Linked DNA regions of Homo sapiens. The protein of the gene in region 1 purifies or fractionates together with the protein of each later gene. This does not show direct contact. Each region holds a gene or a part of one and is shown on either strand. Other genes may lie near its edges.

Region 1 (9,561 bases):
TTTATTCACAAGGATTAAAAAAAAAAAATAAAAAGGCAATGGGCTGATGGAAAACTGATAAGGGCTTTTCTTTTTTTTTTTCTGAAAATAATTTAAAAAGCTTAAAAGTTACATAGGCATCTTCAAAAGAACACAATGGGATTCATTTTATTGTTGACTTTTGGACACCAGTGTCAGACTTTATTGAAAACAAACCCATGTAAAAACAAAGTTAAAATGAAAAATGGCACCTGAAAAATAAATTATTTTATATAAAACAAATCAATAACTTAAAACACACTAATATACAAAAGGTCTAACCATCTACTGTACAACATGGGAATCGGTTAAGAGAGCCTCCCCTCCCCCAAAGCAAGTCACTGTAAACGGAACATCACATGGTCATGGTCAAAGAGGTGGCCCCAAACCAACGGAAAAGGCTTCTCTTCTGGTGGAAGAAAAATCCAGTCCTGTCAAAGTCTCCGTTAGCCTAACTTAGGTACTGGCGGTGACTTACAAGTGAGAAAAAAAAAATTTGTTTTTTTAAATGGCCAAGAAAGAAACCTGAACGATGTCACTGAAAGGTTGTAGAAAAATAGGATCCAGCCATTAGAGGTCAGGGGAAATCAAAAAGGTTTGGAAATGTGAACCCTGCCTGGGATCCGAGATTCAGATTCTACTGCCATCATTACACGCCAATTGCCAATGCCACTTAAAAGAAAGCACTTGTGACTTCAGGGCTGTCTTGCGAAGTTTGGGGACAGGAACCCCTGACCCCCAGAGTCAGCTAAACCCCAGGGGTCTCTGCTAAGGAGCTGCCTCAGGTCCTAGTAGGTGAGGTAGGTCTGGGGAAGATGGGAGGGGATTGAGGTGGAGGGTGGGGTGGAGGGACAGGATAGAGGCCTCCTGTCAGCTGAATTCTTATTCTCTTTCATCCAACACAGGAAGGCTGCGAAAAGCACATGGAAATAAAAGGGGGCTGAATCGGATGTGAAATGTAACAGCTGAGTGATGTCAATTTCGATTTTTCAAGTCCGATGCCGGACTGGGTAAGTCATGTCTTTTCAATGCCTGGTGGACAAATGGCCTTCATTTGGAAGCAAACCGGGTCAAGGAATTGCCACTAACCGTCTTCGGGTGCTTCTATTTCTCTGATCCAGCAGGGACCCCTGGGCTGCCGGCTCCAAAGGGCCGGTCTTGGCTCCCAACAGCAGCACGGTTCAGTCCCTGGAGGCTGGGTCTCCAGGACTAAGGCCAAGCGCAGACTCTCAGAGGTTAAGGCAGCTGCCCTTGGCCAGGAAAAGGCTCACCTTCCAGGAGAAGGTGGCGGAACCCACCCAGCACCACCTGCGGGCGGGCCCCCGAGGAAGCCCATGAATTTCAGGATATTCACGCAGGATGGTGGCCGGGGAGGGGACTCAGCACCCGGGAGGGAATCAGTCACAGAGCTGCGACTAGAGGCACAGCCAGCACAGAAAACTGCGGCTTGGCAAATTACACTGAAAACGAAATAATGGCAGAGCCAAGGGGGAACAAGGGAGAATTCATCAGGAAGCAGGTTCACAAATTCGGAGCTGCCTGGGGTCTAACTACCAGAGGAAGTTACACACGGGTCAAAAGGGAATTCAATCAAAGCCTCTTTGGTATTTCCCAAACCAGATTTTTGATAAATGAACATTATCTACTCTGAACGCTTTTTCATCGAAATTCCCAAATAAAAGCAGAGCACTCATTTTTGCTAAATAGAAATACAACTGATCTATGTAAAATTTTTTAAGAAATGGTTTCTTTTGGGTTGAGCCTTTTTTAAGAAAAGGGATCTCCCCTTTGCAAACAGGCCTTGATAAGATGTAATGAACTTTGAGGACACAGGGCCAGCAACTAGAACCTTGATGGAACAGAGATTGCTTTTCAGGAGTGACAGTTGTTAAGCTAAATCCTTCCACAAGCTTGCAAGCTAAGACTCCCAAATAAAGGCTTTGGAATTTTTTAGCTAGAAGGCTGTTCAAACAGCGGAGACCACATACAATGAGAATGTTCCTGAACTGAGAAACTTCAGGGAACTTTCAAAGGCTCATATACTTCACAGTTTCTTCTCACCTGTCCCAGCATCAGAATAATTGATAGGATTCAGATAAAAGGGGGCGAGGAAAGAAGCTGAGGTGCTACAAGCCCGTCATCATTTTCACAGTTGAAGCTTAAGACAGAGTTCTCTGTTGAATGCTAGCTATGGGCATGTGTGGGAGTGAGACTCCAGGGGGAGTTTCAGAAGCGGGAATCCCGCCTTCCATCAGAAGGGTGTTGGCTCCCACCTTCCATCAGAAGGGTGTTGGCTCCCACCTTCCATCAGAAGGGTGTTGGCTCCCACCTTCCATCAGAAGGGTGTTGGCTCCCACCTTCCATCAGAAGGGTGTTGGCTCCCACCTTCCATCAGAAGATGCTGGCCCAGGGAAACCTGAAAGGCTTCTTTTTCCAGGAAAGCATTCTGGTCCCAGGATGCAGACTGCTCTCGGGCAACAGAGCAGGGACCCTCTTTTGTGTCGAATCCGGGCAATGGGCCTCGGTTTTGGCTTTTCCTGAGGATCTGGGATTCTGTGGGAGAAAGGAGGTCCTCTCTGGCACCAGGCCGACTTTTATGAGACACAGCCTGGGTACGGATGGCAACATCATCAATTTGCAAGGATCGCGCACACAGCCCCTCAGTAAAAGATCAGGGAAAGGGGAGGGGATGGGCATCCTCAATTGTCCAGGGGCCTCTCGAGACGCTGACCTGCTCTGGGGACGGTGGTGCCTGCCTATTGCTCAATTTCACACTTCAATAAATAAATACATAAATAGGTATAAATAAACAGATAAATACAGCCATCATCTCATGAGAGCAATAACTAAAAAACAGCCTACGGTCACGTTTTAGTCTCACGTCAAGGTTAAAAACTGCTGGTACTAAGTTATCCTGTTTGTGATTCTCTCTGTAAACTAGTTATTTATAAACGCCAGATCCCAGTCCTGAGGAGTTTTGGGTGATCTGGCCCTGCCTATTTCACAGGCTTTCTCTTTCACCCTTCCTCCGGGCTCCTGGTTTAAAAGCCACCAGCCTGTAACTGCACATTCTTGCGTCACAGATTCAGAAATGCTTTTGCTTGAGGCAAGGATTGGTTTCTTAAGATCTTACGACTCCTCCCTGAATGCTGGGCCACCTGCACCTTCCCTAGCCAAAAAGAAAGAAAAGGTAAAATAAAAAACAAAACAAAATTCGAGCAAAACAAAATCAAATTTAATGGTCTTAAATGCAAAAGTAAAAACAAACAAAAAACACAAAAAAGCAAAAGAAAATTAACAGAACAGAACAACCCAAAATGTCAAGGCAGTTATGAAGAGAACTTTGAGGGTTAATCTTTAAAACTACAAATCAAAGGTTTTGGTTAATAGATAACTGGCAAGAAGTAAGTACTTTTCTGCTGAGTGTTCATACAAAAGCAAAATTCCAAAACAAAATCCGACTAAAATAGAAAAAGGTCTAAGCGCTCACGAGAAGGGATGCGAGAAATACAATGCTCAAATGTTTCTGTGTTATTAAAATACAGAGCCATTTTACGCCTCCAAGCTATGTTAAATGCTCTGGAAAACGGGAGAAATTATCGTGAACAACAGTATCCAATGTGTGGGGCGCTGTGCATGCAATGTGTGGACAGAAACTCGGGATGTCAGAGTAGCAACACATCTTCAGGCGTGCCTGGAGCTTAGATCTGACTCTGGAATATACTGGAGTTTCCCTGAAACTCTTTGGTCCATTCCCATTGGTGCCTGGGCTTACGAAACACGTTTGTGTCCTTCTCTGGAGGGCCCGCCCAGCATGCAGCCCGTGGCCCCCGGCCCCAGTGGTGGCCCACGCTGGACGGGCCCGCCGCCATTCCCAGGACCACTCGGCAGAGCCCGGGACTGAGTGAGCAGGAGGTGGCAACGGGACCTGCCTGGAAAAGGAACTTCCTGTCAACCAAAGCATACATCGCTTACAATGTTGAAGCGGTTGAGAAAACGCACACTCAGCATCTGTCTAACATCTTTAGATTAAAAACTAAAACTAAAAGGTGATTTTTTTGCTACCCAGTCTGTGGAGACATTGAATGAAACGCGTGTTAGACAGTCTTAGAGGTTAAAGCATGCTTCAGGTTCACCACCATCCAGAGGGACTGGTTAGTCAATGCAGTTCTACTTAGATTTCTGTTTAATATATATCTTAAAGGAAATAACTTACGAAACTTAAGATTGGTCTAACATTGTGGGATTTCAAACATTTGAACATGTCGGTTGCATCCCAGAGTATAAAAACCTTCTCACTTCTCATTCAGACAAAGACAAACACTTGTGAAAATTGGCGCAAAATGAGTTGTACACTAACAAGAAAAGTTTCAACTCCTTCACTCTTAATTATCTATTCCGTACAAAAAAAAGCATGAGCGAGTTATTTGTGGGACTTGTTGGTTTTGAAGGAAACCTGTAAGATTTTGTCCCCCAGGCGGTAGCCGTTCAGGCTGGCTATGGCCATCGCGGCTTCTTCATAGTTTGTCATGGTCACAAAGCCAAACCCTTTGCACTTGTTGGTGTTGAAGTCGCGGATCACTTTCACATTGGTGACGGCACCAAACGGCCCAAACATCTGCCAGAGGATCCCCTCGTCGGCATCCTGCCCCAGGTTGTAGATGAAAATGCACCAGCCGGAGGAGGCGTTTCCTGGCACGTTGACGCCAGAGAGCCCGCTCATGTGATCGACGCCCATGGGGGAGAACCTGGCAGACAGAGAGCAAGCGTCAGGCCACGGTCAGCGCAGGCGGCCTGGGGATGGGGCAAGGCCTGGACGCATGCTGACCATGGCCGCTGGGCCCCATCCCGCTCTGCGCAGCCACGAGGTGCTCACGGTTGAGACACCTGCATGGGTCAAAACCCTGGGAGGAATTAAATACAGTAGTGGAGGGGCGGGACCCTGTTCTGTAGGGAGCTGACTCTGAGGGGCTGGTTGGTGCCCTCCACTCCTCCCACTGTGTATGTCGGGGTTTCTGTTTAGGGGTTCCTGCGGTTCCCCACATTTTAGATGATGGGCGCTTCTCCTGGTCCTCCGTTGAAGGTAGAAATGCTCTGCAGGCCTCTGACAGCCTCAGTTCTCCCTGGAGGAAACTCTCCTCGTACTGTGGGGTACGTGCAGGGGCTGAACTCCTTTTTCCAAATTTTGCACCTTCCCCTTATCATGACCCGCCCCCAAGCGTTGACAGCCCAGTGGTCTCTGGTTAGAGCACGCCTTTGCCAGGGCCACTTGTAGGGCACAAGAATTCCTTCCCAAGCACCAGGCAACCAACCCTCTGTGGCTAGAGCTCAACATCCCCTGAGGGTCAGGGGCCAAACCACTGAGGACTGAGAACTCAAGGGACAGGGAAGGGCCCTGGGACACCAGCAACGGCAGGCTCACCAAACTTGACCACACACGTGGGGCTCTTTCCACAGTGATACTTTTATTTACATAAAAAATAAGCCTTTCTGGGCCAGGCATGGTGGCTCAAGCACGGAATCCCAGGACTTTGAGAGGCCAAGGTGGGAGGATCACTTGAGGCCAGGAGTTTGAGACCAGCCTGGGCAACACAGAGAGACCCCATCTCTAGGAAAAAAACAAAAACCTCAGAAAACAAAAACTAAACTAAACTAAAATAAAATAAAGCCTTCTGAAAATGTACAGATGCTGTAATAAGGATTAAGGTATATGACAAAACAGTTCCTAAAGCTATGTTTCCCTCTGGAACTTTCTCACATTAAAAAAGTAAAGGTCTGAGGGTCAGTTTGGGAATATCTGAGTAGCATACATTTGTGAAGCCGGCATCTGTGAAGCTGCGTGATGCATGCAGAGAAGCATTACCTGCTCCAAAATAAAACTGGGCTTCAGGCTATGGCCCTATCAGCCAAGCGCAGCCCTGCAGGCCCCAGCCGGGGTAAACGAGTGCCTTCAAGCGCTGTTAAACAGATTCACCCTCTCGACAGACACGAGAGGACACCAGCTGCCATGGGGCAGCTCACTAGCCCAACGGTGATTTTCTTTATTTTTGAGAGAGGGTCTCACTATGTTGTCCAGTATGGTCTCAAACTCTTAGGCTCAAGTGATCCTCCTGCCTCCTGAGCAGCTGGACCACAGGTGTGTGCCACCATGCTGGCTAATTTTTACATTTTTTGTAAAACCATTTTCAGGATGGAAAGACTAAGAAGAAAGGGTCTATGTTGTCCAGGCTGGTCTCAAATTCCTGGGCTCAAGTGATCCTCCTGCTTTGGCCTCCCAAAGCGTTGGGATTACAGGCGTGAGTCAATGCGCCCGGCCTTCTTAGGAATTACTCTTGTTGGTAGTTTTTCTCCTGCTGATTTCTCTGGTCTTGACAGTCATAAATCTTCTCCTCTCTTCCTCCAACCCAATTCTTTTCCATCCCTTATCTCTGGGCTTTTCTGGACGTGATAGGGACTGACTGCAAACTCACTGCAGTCTGGGTCTTTCTTCCTCCTCTTCTCTCAGCCTCCTGAGCGAATCTTTCCCTCCAGACTCTCCCGCCCTCCCCACTTCCTTCCATCACTTTGTCTTAGTGGTTGCCCTGCCACTCACTTTTCCTGCTCGACCAGAAATGTCCACTTCTCCGGTTTCCCCTTTCTTTTCTTGTCCTCATTACTGGGACCAGAGTCCCATGTCTCCTCCAACCTTCCCTGTTTTCCTTCCAGGCTAAGGAGCAGTTCACCCAACCCCACCGCCCATATAGCCCGCCCCATCAAGAGCAGGACCGACTGTATGATGGGATTTCTAGAGCTGGATTTTAAAATTCAGCTCCATTCCGTCCAGAGAAGCTTCCCCAGCCTTGTCTTCAAGCCAGAAACCTCAAGGAAGGCAGGCCAGCTTTGGAATTTGAGCCAGGCTGAGAATGCTGGGTAACTCAGCCATGAGAATAACACCTCTCACAGCAGCATGTGTGGCACTGGGCAGCGCCCACCCAGCTTCACTGTTAAAACAACGATGGGGCCGGGCTCACGCCTATAATCCCAGTACGTTGGGAGGCTGAGGTAGGAGGATCACTTGAGGCTAGGAGTTTAAGACCAGCCTGGGCAACACAGTGAGACCCCATCTCAACAAAAAATAAAAACATTAAAAATTAAAAAAAAAAGGGAAATCTATCCTTGTCATACCTGAGATAAGCCCTCGATGCCACTCCTTGAGGTTTTGACAAAAACAAAACAGCCCTGACACTGAGACCTCTGCTGTTTCTGAGGCGACAGCACACCACATCCTGGAGTCCAAGGCCCTGACTCTCATCGCCTCTATCCCACTTCATCCTGGCAGCCAGAACCATTTTCAGGATGGAAAGACTAAGGAATCCGGGAAAACTCCTCCCCTCTAGGACAGGGCTTATAAACAGAATGCATACATACAACATTCACCAATACAAATGACTCCACGAGGCAGGTGTTTGAAAAAGGTTTGCCTTAGGGCTGCTGATCAAATGTCTAAGAATGCTGGAAGATCTACTCTCACCCGAGTATACCTAAGGCAGCATCTTTTCTCCCACAGATATGAGACGTTCATTATTCATTTATTTTTTAGAGAAAGGGTCTCACTCTATCACCCAGGCTGCAGTGCAGTGGTGCAATCATAGTTCACTGCAGCCTCCACCTCCTGGGTTCAAGCGATCCTCCCACCATGGCCTCCTGAGTAGCTGGGACTAAAGGCCAGCATCACCATGCCCAGTTTTTTTCATTACTTTTTGTAGGAACAGGGGTCTCACTTTGTTGCCCAGGCTGCTCAAACTCGGGGCTTCAAGTAATCCTCCTAACTCGGCCTCCTGAGAGCTGAGATTACAGGTGTGTGCTCCCCCACACTGGGCATGAAACCATCTTTAAAGCTCGCGGCTCCGTTCTGCTGTTACTAGGAACTGCGTGCTGAAGCTCTAAGTGCTCACGCTCACAGCAACTGGTGGGGACTGGTGCTGTCTTTTTTTTTTTTTTAATAAAAACAAAAAAAGACAGGTTCTGGCCCTGTGGCCCAGGCTGGAGTGCAGTGGTATGATCACAACTCACTGCAGCCTCAACCTCCTGGGCTCAAGCAATCCTCCCACCTCAGCTTCCTGAGTTGCTGCAACTACAGGAGCGCACCGCCATGCCTGGCCAGCTTTGTATTTTTTGTAGAGATGGGGTCTCGCAATATTGCCCAGGTTGGTCTTGAACTCCTGGGCTCAATCGATCTTCCTCTCTCAGCCACCCAAGGTGCTAGGATTACAGGGATAAGTCACTGTGTCCAGCCTGGAGTCACTGTTTTGATTCCCATGAAAGACAACGCCCAATCGGAAGTAAACGGCTTTCCTACAGACACCTTTCTGATGGAGGTTGTGGTGTGGAGCTGCAGAATGATTCTGAAACGCGCTCTCTGACGGGATCAGTCTATCATCCCCGTGGTTTCTATTCTGTGGCTGTGCCGTCGCCTGCCAGCGGGGCTAAGTATGGCTTTCAGGAGCGCGCACCCTCCCGACCCACCTGAATCTCTGCGCCTGGTGGTGAACGGGGCCTCCGAACCGTCGCGCTGGCGAGTGGTACAGCTGCGAGAGGAGTGCCACGTTTTTGTTCTGGTTGGGGTTGGCTGCAAACTTCACTGTGATGGGCTCAGAGGAACCTGGGGGTTTATGACCATTGAAACTGGTAATTGCCTCTTCTGCCTCCGACCGTTTGTCAAACCGGATAAACGCAACCCCTCTGGACAAACCTTTTCAACAAATCAACAAAAACGGAGTTAGGGGGAAAAACGCTAGGACTTTCAAAACTGAAAAGCAAAAGTCAGGTCAGTCTACTGTGGGCCAGGCTAGAAGTCTGGTTAAGGAAATAAACAAAAATTAAACCTAAAAGTGAAAACAAATGGATGGAGTAAAGAAAACCAATGACTAACAGAAGATTAAAGCTTCAGACTTTCTTCCCGGCTGAAGCCATGACTCCACAGTGTTGGCGCCCAAAGATATTTTGGTGACAGACATCCCCAATAGACACCCAGGCCTCTTATTTGGAAGAAAGCAACATTAGGAAACAGCACATCCACCGTCACTATTTAGCTGCCAGGTGTCCGCCACAGAGTGGGTGCGTGGGTGTGGTGTGTGGTTGGTGGGTAACAGGGTTGGAGTGGGGACTGCGTCTGAGAGATCCTCCCTGGGCTCAGGGGCCACTCTCCTGGCTGCTGTCTCTGGGCCCGCTGTGACAGCAGGCCTCGTGGCCGAGCCTGCTGCAAAGGTGCCCAGCTCAGCCTGCATGCCTTCTCCTTCATGCCAGGAGGGAGTAGGGTCCTGTGGCCACCCCCTGCCAGCTCCATGCTGCTGCTGTCACCTCACTCCTGTCTTGGGATACTCCACTCTAAGGTCCTACACCCCTCCCGTGGGCCCCAAATTGCCATCAGAATCAAATGAGGCCAGAACACTGCCCAGGCTCATACAGCAGAGCTGAACCTATCCACAGGCTCGCCAGGCAGGCCTGGGGTCCCTGTATGGGAAGGGCCAGGGCCCCAGCAGCCAAGCCCAGAGGGCATCTTCT
Region 2 (5,534 bases), on another chromosome or scaffold:
TTTTAAAAATTATTTCTCAGCCGGGCGAGGTGGCTCATGCCTGTAATCACAGCACTTTGGGAGGCTGAGGCAGGCGGATCATGAGGTCAGGAGATGGAGACCACCCTGGCCAACATGGTGAAACCCCATCTCTACTAAAAATACAAAAAAAGTAGCTAGGCATGGTGGCATGCACTTGTAGCCCAGCTACTCAGGAGGCTGAGGCAGGAGAATCACTTGAATCCGGGAGGCAGAGGTTGCAGTGAGCCAAGATCGCGCCACTGCACTCCAGCCTGTTGACAGAGCAAGACTCCGTCTCCAAAAAAAAAACAAAACACAAAACAAAAAAAAGGATTTTGCTTAATTTTCCTTATAAAATGACAGCTTAAACAAGATTTCAAGACAGGGCAGGCTGTTTGGCTCAGTGGCTTCTCACCCCAAAGGTTTATGGGTTGCTCATATTCCATGTCCCTCATGGGTTAACTAAGTGTACCAGCATGGTGACCCAGGCTGGTAGAACAGCCACTTTGCAAAATTTACCAATTGCCTGGAAAGAGGATCACGTATGGGATCTTAAACTTTCATCTGGCAATGACACTTCTCACATTTCAGCCTAGGTAAGTCAGCTGGGCCTTGCAATTGAACCACGAAGCCACAAAGCAGGGTTGGAAATCTGTTGCCAGTACTATGACTACCATTTCAATATCTACCTTTATCAATATCAAGCCTCTTTCTCCTCCTTTATCAACTACCTTTATTAATATCAAGCCCCTTCTCTCCCCCAAATCACTGGCATGATGTGAAATCACTTATTGTGTACAGTGGCAGGGAAGAGGCTGAAATTGTAGTTTTGTGCAAATGAGAAGGTGAGACGTTCCACCCATCAATGTTTACACCTCAGCTTCTTTTGCAACAGGCAATTAACACTTGGGGAAAGAAGAGAACTCGCTCTCAATGCAGCCATTGAGGGTAGCAATCCACATTACAGACTACTCGGACTAGTACAGAAGCTTCCACTGCCTTTTCCAAGATACAAAAGAGTTGCTCTAAACATACACTTCTCTCCATCCCAGAAGTGACCAACTGCCACTCCCTGGACCTTGCTATCCCCCTCTCCCTGTTGCAGATTCAGATATGCAAACGATGCTTCTTCCTACTTTCCAGAATTGCTCAAGGCTCTCTCCACCTCCTAGCTCCAGCACTCCCAACCCATTCTCAGGCTCTTCCCCATCCCTCTGCATGTCCCCAGCATAGCCTGACTGGTACACCTGAGGGTGGACTTAACTCCCCTGGGAGTTAGCTGCTGGGCTACAAGCTTACAGAAACAGACCAGACTACTCAGTGGATCCCCAGTTGTTATCATGACCACAGTATAAGCCCACTCAGAAATGATTCCTAGATGTTTAAACATTTTCCGATAGCATTTTTTGAGTTGGAGTCTTGCTCTTTCGCCCAGGCTAGAGTGCAGTGGCGAGATCTTGGCTCACGCCACTCTCCTGCCTCAGCCTCCCGAGTAGCTGGGACTGCAGGGGCCCGCCACCATGCCCAGCTAATTTTTTGTATTTTTGGTAGAGACAGGGTTTCACCATGTTAGCCAGGATGGTCTCGATCTCCTGACCTCGTGATCCGCCCGCCTCGGCCTCCCAAAGTGCTGGGATTACAGGCGTGAGCCACCGTGCCCGGCCCCCATAGCACAAATTCTTTATTTTTTTCACTCTATTGCCCAGGCTGGAGTGCAATGGCATGATCTCAGCTCACTGCAACTTCCACCTCCCACGTTCAAGTGATTTTCCTGCCTCTGTAATCCCAAAGTGCTGGGATTACAGGCGTGAGCCACCGCACCCAGCCATAAATTCTTAACATAAATACTAAAATCGAGGAGCAGTTATTTTTACAAGTGTGGAAAAAAGGTCACCTGAAGGTCTTCCATGGGAGTAGCAGAATGGTTCTTACTCACAAAAAATTCACAATAATGAAAACTCCTTAAAAATTCACGAAATAATTATGCAGAACAATAAGCTTTCAAAATACAATTATATTATGACCTTCCCCCGTTATCTAAGGGCATGAAGCAAGTTCAACCGCAAGTGCATGGTAGCAGAAAACTGCCAGTGCCTTTTGCTCAACAGGTGGCCCAGCGTTAGTCTTGAACATTTTCAAGTATAGGATTGTTTGATGACCCCGGCTAGTTAAGGTTTCCCTTTCTCTCTCACACACATTTCTCAAAGTACCTATCCTCCCGAATATCCGACAAGGGACCGATCGAAGAGTCAGTGAAAGAAAAACATCATTATTCTTTGACATCGGCACATTTCAAAAACAGCTCATTACACAGAACAGCCAACTTTTTTTTTAATTGTTTTATTTGGGAAAAGTGCTTCTTACAAAAGGGCAGCTGCAAAATACAGAGACCTCTGCAACAATTATTTGTTTTTTCTTAAAGTGAAAGAATGGGTGGGATCCAAGGAATCAAAGCAGTAGATGGACAAACCAGGAGCATCCCCGAGTTATTTTCAGGAAACAGAGCAACAAAACACAAAGGTACAATTTCCAATCAAGGAATTCTTCCAACAACTTAACTTTAGCTAATCTCAGGGATTCCCAAGCCCTCCCTTTCGGTGGAAAAGTATGACTTATCACTGCAAACCCATTACTCCACTACAATAAACACCTTAGAACAGAGTTTTGAATCACGTCTGTCTACCTGAAAGCTCAGGGGTGGAATGAGGCAAATACCCACAAAAACAAACACAAAAACCCGACAACAAAATGCCTCAAGTGAGGACAAAGGTTTCTCAGAAAGTGCCTGTACTGGAAAGGCTAGATCGTAAAACATTAAATACAACTGTGTATCCAAGACCCAGTTTGTGTTATTATATGGGATAACCAGGTAGTTTTAACCTCTATGGCTAACCCCATTTCTCTATTTATATAGACAGAGCTAGCACTGCTATATTGACAACTACCAATATACTGCTTTGCCCTTTAAGATCTATCTGCCACACAAGGCTTAAACCACTAAACCAGGTTTTTCTACTAAGGCTAAGAATACTGCATCTATGCAGGGATGAGAAGCTTATCACACACCCACACACTCACACCATGTCAGCCCTTGGGAGCCAACTTCCAACTCTGCATTGATGTTATGCCTCTCTATCTTTTATACGTATTCTTTCTCAATTTTCCTATCATGCAAAACAGTAAAAAATCTCAACACATTCACACCTGATTCTGGTTACCCAGTAGTATTACTTGTGTGCAATTAAACAAGAGACCAAAACCACAGAACAAGTGCACGTGGTAGGGATTACAGGGTAGGGAACAGATATAAAAACACAGATGTGCAGATTTCACCAGAAACCTCAAGGATCCACATCCCATGTCTGGGGCAGAGGGCTATTGGCCAGCTTAGGTCCCTTCACCCATCACTCCTATTCTTGGACCCCAAAGCAGGGCCACTGCTTTTACTTTTGAACCTGGGGTCCTCAAAATGAGTGTGTGAAAAGTCCATAAATGCAATCTGGTTGAAAACAGATGACGCAACACACCTACACTAACTGTCTGACAGTTAAATTCGTGTTACAAAAAACTAACTTTAAGATTTATTTTTGTAACTTTTTTCAACAGGGAAAACAACACACTCCTCAGGGAAAGGTGAGGGGTTGAGAAGACAGGCCCTGGGTAAAAATTCTTAGGACAGCACCTGGAGTTGAGAGGCCTGCCTAGGAGAGAACACAGGCACTGCCACACCACCACAGGGGACAGCTGCTGTCTGAGGTCAGCAGACCAGTTCACACGCCACGCAAGGTTGCTATAGATCCAAGTCATAAAAATCTTCCAGCTCATCATGAAACAAGTCCCACTCATCTTCAGAGTCTGTTAGTTCGTCGTCCCCACCTGCAGCCAAAAGCATAAGCAACATCTCGCCCAGCTCAAAGGTGACAACCTCTTCTTCATCGTTGTCAAAGGGGTTGCTGTTCTCTCTTTCCTCAATGAGTTCCCAGAAGTGGTTCCTTCGTTGGGCCTGTAAAAAACAAGGCCATGATAGGGATGGCACTGTCGAGCAGTATCTTCTATCCTGTTGTTTATAAGGCAAAACGTCCAGCACACCAGAGGGCATGACGAACCAGACTTCTTAGTTAGGGTTTCCATTTACCACTTCCTCCCCTCTGGTTACTTCATGGAAATCGTTTAGGCTAGAGCTTTAACACACATTTTTTCTTCCTTTCCTATCCCTCCCAGTTTTCTGAGGTTTGTTTCCTCCTTTAATACTCTACACTTTCGCTCCCAGACCTGAGCGTTAACCTTCTCCTTCCCCTACCCCAATATGTGCAGGACTCAACTGATACCTTGGAATTTCCCCTCCTTTAAAAAAACAGTGAGAGTTACCCGGTATCTGCTTGATGTTCCCACTTTCTGTCTCTGTGGCTCCTCTCTACGGCCATCAGGGTACGCATGCTTGTAAAAACAGTTCCCTCCAAATGGGCAGCTCCCACGTCCTTCATCAAAATACCTGCACGCCTTGTTGCTGGAAAGGAAAATATCGCAACCCTTATTCACAGTGGATTTCAGGTCTGTATTTGACTATCATCCGGGGTTTCTTTAAACAGGTAGGGATAGAACCAGTATGTCAGCTTACAGCCCTCCCCAAGATGTGTTCTTATAAACATGTGTGTGCCAATGCAAGAAACACTAACTAGAAACCGGTAACTCTGTTCAAGTCTATGCTGGTTAATAGCTCTAGTACAAGCAGATGCCATAGAGAGAAAATCTTCTAGAAAGCCAACACATGAGAACATAGGACAGCTATGACACGGATTCAGAATAAGGTAGAACCCCACTCATGGGGCCTTACTTGTCAACAGTAGAGACCTCTTTATAACACAGTCCCTTGGCATGGACCCCAAGGACTGTGTTATAGCAAGATATATACTGGATGTTATCAGGGTGACAAAATAAACTGTCCTGGGAAGTCAAAGAAGGGTAGGAAGGAGGTAGGAGTGTATAATGCAGCACCATTCTTTTCAAAGTGAACCCAAGCTCTGTTGGGCTCTTCGCTTGAGAAAAGGCTGCAGTGCTCATACCTCATTGCCTCCTTGTATTTCAGAATGAGTTTCTGCTTCTCTTCTTTCTCCTCCACCCAGTACTCACTTGGAATGACAAAGTTAGATGTGATCCGGCATTCTGGGCAGGACCTGGGAAACAATGAACAGGCTGCAATGCAAATTCCCCTTTTACAGGCCCACTCTTCAAGGACACACCCTGGTGTGTCGCCTCCAGACTTAAAGACTTAACTGAAAGGCACGTGGGCATTTCCTGAAAGGGTTCCACATACTGTCACACAACTGACCATTTCTTTCAAGCAAGGCAACCTCCTTTATAAATCCAACTCAAGGGCTAGCCAGTTCTTTTTTTTTTTTTTTGAAAAATATAACTTAGGTAAAAAACAAAAACAAAAGAAGACATTTCACACAGACTCCTTTTTCTTTCGTTTAAATAAATTTATTTCTTGTAGCTTTGCTCTGTTTAGATTATGTGGTTTTTGTTCAGTTATG

What was found. Proteins that work in one complex are often made in the same cells at the same time.
Region 2: the proteins of ELAVL1 (region 1) and MKRN1 purify together in Homo sapiens (affinity purification with western blotting; 2 studies listed by BioGRID, with this or other methods). This does not show direct contact.

What each region holds. Positions count from the first base shown.
Region 1 is NC_000019.10:7,959,042-7,968,602, forward strand, and holds part of ELAVL1 (ELAV-like protein 1), read right to left. Parts: intron 8,750-9,561; coding exon 8,524-8,749; intron 4,767-8,523; coding exon 4,442-4,766; 3' UTR 1-4,441. UniProt on the Homo sapiens protein: RNA-binding protein that binds to the 3'-UTR region of mRNAs and increases their stability.
Region 2 is NC_000007.14:140,450,727-140,456,260, forward strand, and holds the end of MKRN1 (E3 ubiquitin-protein ligase makorin-1), read right to left. Parts: exon of another isoform or gene 5,489-5,534; intron 5,175-5,488; coding exon 5,064-5,174; intron 4,508-5,063; coding exon 4,369-4,507; intron 4,004-4,368; coding exon 3,791-4,003; 3' UTR 2,307-3,790; downstream 1-2,306. UniProt on the Homo sapiens protein: E3 ubiquitin ligase catalyzing the covalent attachment of ubiquitin moieties onto substrate proteins. These substrates include FILIP1, p53/TP53, CDKN1A and TERT.